Homo sapiens: one gene and its partners. The gene in region 1 interacts genetically with each later gene. Each region holds a gene or a part of one and is shown in the gene's direction. Other genes may lie near its edges. The genes, in order: GEMIN5, RUVBL1 and RBBP4.

Region 1 (3,305 bases):
TAATTTTTTTTTTTTTTTTTTTTTTTTTAGAGACGGGCTTTCACCTCGGGTGATCCGCCCGCCTCAGCCTCCCAAAGTGATGGGGTTATAGGTGTGAGCAACTGCACCCAGCCTTTATTTTGTTTTTAATTACAGCTTTTAGTTCCAGAAACTCACTTTTTGTTTTTGTTGTTTGTTTGTTTGTTTTGAGAGGGAGTCTCACTCTCATGCTCAGACTGGAGTGCAGTGGCGCAATCTCAGCTCACCACAACCTCCACCTTCCGGGTTCAAGCAATTCTTCTGTCTCAGCCTCCCGAGTAGCTGGGACTACAGGCACGCGCCATCATGCCTGGCTAATTTTTGTGTTTTTAGTAGAGGCGGGGTTTCACCATGTTGGCCAGGCTGGTCTTGAACTCCTGACCTTGTGATCTGCCCACCTTGGCCTCCCAAAGTGCTGGGATTACAGGCATGAGCCACCGCGCCTGGCCCACTTTTTGTTTTAATTAAATGCAAATGTAAAGGTGTTTTCTCAGTGTGAACAGACTTTAACACCGGGACGTGTGTGTGCTGCTGTGCAACTAGACATGAGAGTTTCCGATGTGGGAAGCAAAAATGGGTGGCGGAGACAAGAGGAACTTTCAAAGTGTGAATTGTGTGTACTTGTTTCCAAATGCGGTTCACAGGAACAGTTTGGTGGCATCCTCTGCGCCTACCGTGGGAGGATGTTTAACTCAGACTCTGGCTTCTCTCTCCAGCTCCTGCTTCACATTTGCCATGACTTGACCCTGGCAGTGCTGAGCCAACAGATGGCCTCCTGGGACGAGGCTGTGCAGGCGCTCCTTCGGGCGGTGGTCCGGAGCTATGACTCAGGGAGCTTCACCATCATGCAGGAAGTGTACTCAGCCTTTCTCCCTGACGGTAAGTGACTTCCTGCTGCCTGAGGCACACCCTTTAATGGACAACATCACCACCATTAGTGGTGTGGCACTGGGAGTACCTAGATTCTTAAAAGATGGAGATTGGCCAGCTGTGTCATTTTAGTAGAAAGTTTGGATTCTCTTACCGAAGCTTTTAAGAACAACTATACTGTTTCCTTTACCTGGCCCTACCCTCTTACAGCCTCCTGTCCACTTTCCACAAAGTTTAAGGGAGAGAGAAATAGGAATGTAGTTACATGTTAGTAAGAACAGAAAAGAACAGCAAAAAAGATAGACATTCCTTGGGCTGCATAGTCAGTCACTGAACTAAATCATTGTGATTTTTCAGAGAGACAGTGTGATCTGTTGTCGTGGCCCCAGAGCCTTCAGTAGTACAAATGGAATACTCTATCATGCTTTGAATGACTCCTAGGATGTAGTAATGAGAACACTGTCGCAAGCCAGGAAATGTTTAGCCTCCAGTTGGCTCTTGGTGGAAAGGCATGTGGCCCGGTGGATCACACTGTTGTCCTTTTTCCTGGGGTCTGCTTCTTGGTTGATAAGAAATAGAACATAAGGGCAGGAAGCCACATTTCTGGCAACTAGAGAAATGCATGACCCAGTATCTTTTTCCTCTTTTCCTAGGCTGTGACCACCTAAGAGACAAGTTGGGGGACCATCAATCCCCTGCCACACCAGCTTTCAAAAGTTTGGAGGCCTTTTTTCTTTATGGGCGTCTGTATGAATTCTGGTGGTCTCTCTCCAGACCTTGCCCAAATTCCAGTGTCTGGGTAAGGGCTGGTCACAGAACACTCTCTGTTGAGCCAAGCCAGCAGTTAGACACTGCCAGCACTGAAGAAACGGACCCTGAAACTTCTCAGCCAGAGCCAAACAGGCCTTCAGAACTAGACTTGAGACTCACAGAAGAAGGTGAGCGAATGCTGAGTACTTTTAAGGAGCTCTTTTCAGAAAAGCATGCCAGTCTCCAAAACTCACAGAGAACTGTTGCTGAAGTCCAAGAGACCTTGGCAGAAATGATCCGACAACACCAAAAGAGTCAACTCTGTAAATCCACAGCAAATGGTCCTGATAAGAATGAACCGGAAGTAGAAGCAGAGCAGCCCCTCTGCAGTTCTCAGAGCCAGTGGTAAGTACTGAGGCAAGTACAAGACGGAATGAAAAATGACCCTGCTGGCTAGGAACAGTGGTTCATGCCTATAATCCCAGCACTTTGGGAGGCTGAAGCAGGAGGATCACTTGGCCCAGGAGTTCACCACCAGCCCGGGCAAAAAAGCGAGACCCTGTCTCTACAAAAAAAAAAAAAAAAAAAAAGCCCGGGCACAGTGGATCACGCTTGTAATCCCAGCACTTTGGGAGGCCGAGGTGGGCAGATCACTTGAAGTAAGGAGTTTGAGACCAGCCTGGCCAACATGGTGAAACCCCGTCTCTACTAAAAATTAGCTGGGTATGGTGGCACATGCCTGTAATTCCAGCTACTTGGGGGGCTGAGGCCAGAGAATCGTTTGAACCTGGGCAGCAGAGGTTGCAGTGAGTCAAAATCGCACCAGTGCACTCCAGCCTGGGCAACAGAGGGAGACTTCATCTCAAAAAATACAAATAAAGTAACCAGGTGTGGTGGCATGTACCCTGTAGCTACTTAGGAGGCTGAGGCAGGAGGATCACTTGAGGCCAGGAGCTCAAGTTCAGCCTGGGCTACATATTGAGACCCTGTCTCTAGAAAAATTAATTTTTTTAAATTAGCCAGTAGTGGTGGCATGCACTTGTAGTCCCAGCTACTCAGGAGGCTGAGGTGGGAGGATCACTTAAGCCCAGGAGTTCGAGGCTGTAGTGAGATACGATCATGCCACTCATACCAGCCTGGTTGACAGACCCTGTCTCTACAAAAAAAAAAAAAAAAAATTAAATTTTAAGAAGCCAGGTGACAAAGGAATTTTATTTATAAAATGAGATAAAAGTAACCCAGGCAGGGGCATATGCTCTCAGGGCCTCCTGAGGGCTGTGTCATAGGCAAAAGTTTAAATTTTTAAAAAATATTAAAAATAAAAGGTAAAAGCTACCCAGGCATAACAAAAGATAATCCAATTCAAGGATGGGCAAAGGACTTGAATAGACATTTCTCTAAAAAGCCAGTAAGCACAGGAAATGATGCTCAACATCTCATCATTGGGGAAATGCAAATCAAAACTACAGTGAAGCAGCACTTCATAGCCATTAGGCTACTATCAGAGAAACAGAACAAGTGTTGAGGAGGATGCAGAGACATTGGAACCCTTGTGCCTATTGGTGGGAATGTAAAATGATGCAGCCACTGTGGAAAACAGTACAGCAGCACTTCCTCCAGAAATGTAAAATAGAATGACCATAGGATCCAGCACTTCCACATCTGGG
Region 2 (3,655 bases), on another chromosome or scaffold:
CCCTTCTCTACTAAAAATACAAGAAATTAGCTAGGCATGGTGGCAGGCGCCTGTAGTCCTTACATATTTTTTGAGGGGCTGCCATAAGTGTGGGACCAAGGTACTTCACAGTCCATGAGGAATAGAGGTAGAAGAGATAAGATGTATTCACAAGACTCTGGCACAGTGTGGTCACTGCCCAGAGAGAAGAGCACCTTTTAGATAGTCACGTATTCAGTTATTAAATCAGTGTAGCAAACCTTATATTATGTAATCCTGAGATATAGATGCTCAGCTAGTGTAACTTTCTCAGTGTTCCCCCCTTATAGTCAAATATTCTAAAATATATGAAGTTCCATAGCCCATTTATGGAATATGTGTGTGTATATATACACACATGTGTACTGCAAATGGTTAATAAAATTCAGAGATTTATAATGTATTTAAAATATACTAACAGATGATAAAGTAATTTAACCTTGAGGATTCAAAACATATTCAATGGATCTAATAGTGCCATAGGTTTAACTTCACATTCAGTATTTACAGTGTTCACTGATGGCCAGCTAGTACTCTATGTCATTGATTCTTACCCCTTAATAGGTTACTCTGGGAATTTGATGAAAGCTATGGATCCTTTCTCTGGAAAAAATGTATATATGAACATAAACACAGTTTCGTTCCCAACTTCAAGAGGTATTTGGGCCCCTGGCGTCTATCCCTGTACCCTGGGCCAAAAATCAGTGTTCCCACTTGTACTCATACTGTGCATTCTTCACACAGTAGTAGCTAGCACCATCTTTTAAAAACAAATCATAGCATGACACATAGTCTTCAAGACCTTTTCAGTGGCTTTGTATTATTTATGTAGAATAAAATCCAAACTTTACCACACACTGTAAGTTCCTGTTCTGCGTTCTGGCCGCTGTCTACCTCTTCAACCTCATCTTCCTGGTCTTTTTCGCTATACTTTGGTCACTGCAACCTTTCTGTCCCTTGGATATGCCAAGCTTGTTTCTGCTTTGGATTTTCTGAATTCGCTGTTTTCTTTGCCTGGAACGCTGACTCCTGCTCCTCCCAGAGGTTCACATATCAAATTAAATGTCATCAGAAAGACACTCCAGGATCACTTTCTAGCCACTCGTTCTCTCTCATCATCCCTTTTTCTTCATAGTAGTGATGAAGATTATGTGTGCAATGTTTGTATGTTTGTATCCCTCCCTAAAACATGAGCTCCACAAGTACAAGGCTTTTCTGCCTTGCCTTCGTTACCCTCGGCACCTAGAACAGTGACTGCAGTGCACTGGCACTCAGTGTTAGTTGGATGAGTGTGTGACTTGTGTAGGCCAGGGACTGAGATTTTTCCCCTTGTGAAACATTTTAATATTGATTTATTATTTCTTTCCATTGTGGTGTGTAGGCATGTGGCGTCATAGTAGAATTAATCAAAAGCAAGAAAATGGCTGGAAGAGCTGTCTTGTTGGCAGGACCTCCTGGAACTGGCAAGGTACTCATTTTCTCTCATTTTTTAAATCTACCCAGGAGAATGATCCTAGTGTCTAAGCCAAATTGAATTCATGTCTTAACTAGTCTTTGTTTAGCTAAATGGGTTATATGTATGTTTTTAAAATTAATATGCAATAATACAATTGGGTATCTAAAATCCCTGCTTCTAAAATTCAAATTATCCTGGCCTACCTCCAGAGAAGAAAGAATGAAGTCCTTGAAGGGGTCTCATTGTCTCTAGAATTTGTCCTTTTTCTCTTTCAAGTCTCCTTTGCTGTGGAAATACATTTCTGTTGGCCTAGGGCTTCATAAAGATCTTCTGAGTGACATCTTACTTGAGGGGACAAAAAAATGAGTCAAGCATTCTTCCAAATGCTAGCTTTACGCATCGCTATTGTGGCTGTGTGGGAGATGAAAAAAAGGAAAACAAGAATTAGAGACATGATTTTTATCTTCAAGGGGCTTACAGTCTCTCCAGGGCAGAAAGAAAGGAAATCATGACAGCACAGGAGGACTCAGTATGAGTGCTCAGCTTTGAGGTATTGACTAATATTAAATGCAGCTGGAATTTAAGGAGGCAGCACTGTGGGCTGGTACAGCTGGAAGGGTTGAGACTTGACATTTTCCCTTCAGAGCTGGGAGAGGATTTGGCTTTGCAGGGAAGATAAGGGCCTTTCAGGCAGAGGACACCGTGTGGCTTCTTGGGATTCGTGAGGGGACTGGCCAGATACTTGAAACTCACCAGAGTTCCCAATTTGAGCTTGCTTATTCTTCAAAAGGGCCGCTTGATGTGGGCAAGTAGGAGCTTGGGGTTGTGTGTGAAAAGAAATGGGCTTTAAATTCCAGCTCTAGTATTGACTTGCTATGAGACCTGAGGCAGGTCCCTTAACTTTTCTAAGCAAAAGCATACTCTACCTATTTCAAGCAATTATTAAACTGATCGATTGTAAGATAATGACTTGCATTATAATTTTGAAATGATTACTGATTGTGTATCTTATATTGGTATCTTACAAGAGGAAGAAGTGCTATATTTGTGAACAGTTTTTTCTCTTCCTATATAAAAGCAAATTGTGAACAGTTTTTTAAACTGTAAAGTGCCATACAGATGTGAGCTTCAGTTACCTCTCTCCAGGCAACATTAGCTTGTCCAGTGCATTTACCATTTATTTGCTTGCTATTCCTTATATCTTAGACCTTCTCTTTCCCTCCATTTTTCTTCTTCCTAAAGTAAATAATTTAGAAATTTCTTCTAGAAGTTTGTTGGTGGGAAAGTCTCTCACGTTTGCATTCATTATGTTGCCCTTGTTTTGAAAAAGAGCTATGTTGGCTATATAATTCAGTTGACAGATATTTTCTTCAGTACTGTTTCACAGTACTTCTCTCTCAATGTTATTTGCTCCTTTGGCTTCTGTTGTTTTTGAGAAGTCTAATTTTGAGGGTTTTGAGTCTTCTTTCTGCATGTTTTTGAGATATTTTTGGGTTTGGTGTTTCACTATTATATGTCAGAGTGGATTAATTTTTGTTTATCATGCTTAATGCTAATTGTGCTTCTTGAATCTGAGTATTATGTCTCTGCTCAATTCTGGAAAATTGTCAGCCTTAGGAGAATCGCTTGAACCTGGGAGGCAGAGGTATCAGTGAGCCAAGATCATGCCATTGCACTCTAGCCTGGGTGACAGAGCAAGACTACGTCTCAAAAAAAAAAAAAACAAAAAAACTGTCAGCGTTAATCTCTTCAGCTATTGCCTTTCCCCATTCTCTTTGTTCTTTCCTTCTGGAACTCCACTGAGATGAGGTTAAGATTGCAGTGGTTTTCAACCTGGGGCAGTTTTGCCCTTGCAGGGGACTTTGACAACGTCTGGAGACATTTTTGGTTCTCACGACTTGGTTGGGGGTGCTACTGGCATCTAGTGGGTGGAGGCCAGGGATGCTACTAAACATCCTGTAGTGCACAGAGCAGTTTCCATAATAAGGAATTATCTGGCCACAAACGTCATGGAGTCAAGCTGAGAAACCCTGGGCTAGAGCTTCTCGTTTTGTCCTCTTTGTCTTTTAGCCTCTCATATTTGTTATCTTTTTGACTCTGCTAAATTATGGGTAATTTCTTTTAGATCTTTGTTCCAGTCTAATTGTCTCTTAAGCTATGATTAAGTGACTGATTAATCCA
Region 3 (3,655 bases), on another chromosome or scaffold:
GTGGGTCATATCTGTTATGTGCACTTTGATAAAGTAAACTCTGACTTTAGAAACAATATTTAAGGTTGAGGGAAAGCCTGAGTTTGCAATGGTAGGTATTTATATTTATATTAGAGTTTTAGGTATCAGAAGAAATACTTAACACATCCTTGGTTCTGTACCTTCACAATAAACTTTTCTCAGCTGGTGCTGGTGGGGAGGATTTCTGCAATTGAAAGAAGCAAAAATATATATTATTGCTGTACATTCTTGATTTTTTATTTTTTTACTCAGTCTCGCTCTATTGCCTAGGTTGGAGTGTAGTGGCACGATCTTCTCTCACTGCAACCTCCGCCTCCCGGGTTCAAGCGATTCTTCTGCCTCATCCTCCTGAGTAGCTGGGATTACAGGCGCCCGCCACCACGCCTAGTTAATTTTTGTATTTTTAGTGGAGACAGGGTTTCACCAAGTTGGCCAGGCTGGTCTTGAACTCCTGACCTCAGGTGATCCACCCACCTCAGCCTCTCAGAGTGCTGGAATTACAGGCGTGAGCCACTGCACCCATCCATATTGCTATACATTCTTAACACGGGAGATAACTACCCCTAAGGAGGTGAAAATTGGTTTGTGTATGTGAGTAGGTGTAAATAATCTTACTGGTTGATTGTTTAAAGCACAGATATGCACAGAGGACATAGGATATCTATGGTATTAAAATTTCATGGGACTGGTGGGGAGGGAATAGTTCTTAAAAGAGTTCTTAGAGGAGCAATAGTAAAAAAAAAAAAAAGGTTGAGAAACACTAACTTAAATTACCCTTTCTAGGTTTAAAGTGGTAGAAATGACTTAACCATGGCACTCTCTATGTGTATAGAAACTAAGTTCCAATGAGTTGTTTAATTATATCCTGTTTTTAGGCCATAACCTAAGGGTTTAACTGCTCATGAAATGCTTAAACGCTTTCCTTTTTTTTTTTTTGGAGATGGAGTCTCGCTCTGCTGCCCAGGCTGGAGTGCAGTGGCGCGATCTCAGTTCACTGCAACCTCCACCTCCCAGGTTCAAGCGATTCTCCTGCCTCAGCCTCCCAAGCAGCTGGGACTACAGGCATGCACCACCACGCCTGGCTAATTTTTTGTATTTTTAGTAGAGACAGGGTTTCATCATGTTGGTCAGGCTGGTCTCGAACTCCGGACCTCAAATGATCCTCCTGCCTTTTGTTCTTGTTACTGAGGCACAAATACTCTGATTGGTAGTGTGATAAATTGTAAAACTACATATATGTGTGTGTATATATTTATATTGTGTGTGTAAAATTATATGTGTAATTTTACACAATATAAATGTTATATTTATATATAAACATACGTATATATGTATGTATATGTAAAACTACATGCGTGTATATATTGTGTGTAAAATATAGTTATATATAATTTTAGATAATATAAATGTATTATATTTATATATAAATATATAAATTATATATGTAAAACTACATGTGTATATATTTATATTGTGTGTAATATATATAATTTATATATACATATAAATTTTATATATATAAAATATATGTAATTTTACACACACACAATATAAATGTATACACACACATATATGTGGTTTTACATATATATGTAATTTTACACACAATGTAAAAAACGCACCCCTTCTCCCATATAATAAACCTTTCCCTGGCCGGGTGCGGTGAGTCACTCCTGTAATCCCAGCACTTTGGGAGGCTGAGACCAGTGGATCACTTGAGGTCAGGAGTTCAAGACCAGCCTGGCCAACATAGTGAAACCCTGTCTCTACTAAAAATACAAAATTAGCCATGTGCAGTGGCACGCACCTGTAATCCCAGCTACTCAGGAGGCTGAGGCAAGAGCATCACTTGAACCCGGGAGGCAGAGATTGCAGTGAGCCGAGATCTCACCATTGCACTCCAGCCTGGGCAAAAAAAAAAAGGGAAACTCCGTCTCAAAAACAAAACAAAAGAAAAACCTTTCCCCTGGATATCACTTAAATGGATGTATTGTGATGTATTGTTTTCTGAAGGATTTATCCTGTGTATTGGATCACTCATTCAACAAATATGTTGAGTAATTTTGTATGCCAGGTATAGAATATGCAATATAGGTTCATAATTTGCTTTTATGGCCTAATATATCTGGGGCATGTATCTTTGTTAGTAGATGGAGACCTGCCTCCTTTTGATGGCTGTATAGTAGACCATAATTAACTATTCCTTACTGATAGACATTTAGATGGTTTCTAATTTTTTGACTTCAAAAGCATAGTTTTGCTATAGAAATACTTTCTAAGTAGAATGTTGTATCAAAGGGCAGGACCGTTTTTTAATATAATTGATACTGCTAAGTTGCACTCCAGAAAAAGATTTGAAGTCCCACAACAGCGTATGTATTTATGTCTGTTTCTCCATGCCTTTGCCAACACTGGACTCAGTAGAGTTCATTCTCAAGTTTACATTGCTTTTTTTATTTGTGATGTTGAGCTTACATCTCCTGTTTATTTATGTTTTTTGCCCGTATTTCCTTTTGAGTTACCTCTTCATATAAGGTAAATTATACCTTCTCCACCCAATAAATAGGTGCAGATCATTTTCTTGTTTAACTTAAAATCTTAAGTCCTGTTATTGGTTAGAAGCTGTAAGTTGCTTTTTTAATGGAGCCTTGCTCTGTCACCCAGACTGGAGTGCACTGGCATGATCTTAGCTGACTGCAGCCTCCTTATGGGCTCAAACGATCCTCCCACCTATGCCTCCCAAGTAGCTCTGGCTACAGACATACACCACCATACCTGGATTTTTATTTTATTTATTTATTTTTTTTGAGTCGGAGTCTGGCTCTGTCGCCCAGGCTGTAGTGCAGTGGCGCAATCTCTGCTCACTGCAACCTCCGTCTCCCAGATTCAAGCTATTCTCCTGATTCAGCCTCCCAAGTAGCTGGGATTACAGGCGCCCACCACCACACCCAGATAACTTAATTTTTTTTTTTTTTAAGAGATGGCATGTCACTATGTTGCTCAGGCTGATCTGGAACTCTGGCCTCAATCTTCCCACCTCAGACCTCCCATTCAATGATTTCATAAAGTATGTGTTCATCTATTGTTGTCTTCTGGGACTTTTATGTTTGGGCCATTAAAACTTTTGTCATTCTGGTATTTGGTATGGAATCAGAATCCAGCCTTTTTTTCCTAAATGATTGAGTTTTTGTTGTTATTTTGAGGCGGAGTCTTGCTTTGTCACCCAGGCTGGAGTGCAGTCACACAATCCCCGCTTACTGCAACCTCTGCCTCCTGGGCTCAAGCAGTCCTCCTGCCTCAGCGTCCTGAGTAGCTGGGATTGCAGGCATGCGCCACCATGCCCAGCTGATTTCCATTGTATTTTTTGTAGAGAGTAGGTCTCACCACGTTGCCCAGGCTGGTCTGAAAACTCCTGGGCTCTTGCAATTCACCCACTTTGGCTTCCCAAAGTTCTGGGCTTATAGGCATGAGCCACTATACTCAGCCAAAAAAATTTTTTTATTCAGTCAACCATTGATGGACACTTGGGTTGATTTCCGTATCTTTGGTATTGTGAATAATGCTACAGTGAACATACAAGTGCACGTGTCTTTTTTGTAGAACAATTTCTTTTCTTTTGGGTATATTCCCGGTA

The links.
Region 2: changes in GEMIN5 (region 1) and RUVBL1 together harm fitness less than expected from each alone (positive genetic interaction), as found in Homo sapiens cells (one large-scale study listed by BioGRID).
Region 3: changes in GEMIN5 (region 1) and RBBP4 together harm fitness less than expected from each alone (positive genetic interaction), as found in Homo sapiens cells (one large-scale study listed by BioGRID).

Annotation. Positions count from the first base shown.
Region 1 is NC_000005.10:154,889,979-154,893,283, reverse strand, and holds part of GEMIN5 (gem-associated protein 5), read left to right. Parts: intron 1-734; coding exon 735-897; intron 898-1,541; coding exon 1,542-2,043; intron 2,044-3,305. UniProt on the Homo sapiens protein: The SMN complex catalyzes the assembly of small nuclear ribonucleoproteins (snRNPs), the building blocks of the spliceosome, and thereby plays an important role in the splicing of cellular pre-mRNAs.
Region 2 is NC_000003.12:128,117,159-128,120,813, reverse strand, and holds part of RUVBL1 (ruvB-like 1), read left to right. Parts: intron 1-1,399; coding exon 1,400-1,486; intron 1,487-3,655. UniProt on the Homo sapiens protein: Possesses single-stranded DNA-stimulated ATPase and ATP-dependent DNA helicase (3' to 5') activity; hexamerization is thought to be critical for ATP hydrolysis and adjacent subunits in the ring-like structure contribute to the ATPase activity.
Region 3 is NC_000001.11:32,657,607-32,661,261, forward strand, and holds part of RBBP4 (histone-binding protein RBBP4), read left to right. Parts: intron 1-3,655. UniProt on the Homo sapiens protein: Core histone-binding subunit that may target chromatin assembly factors, chromatin remodeling factors and histone deacetylases to their histone substrates in a manner that is regulated by nucleosomal DNA.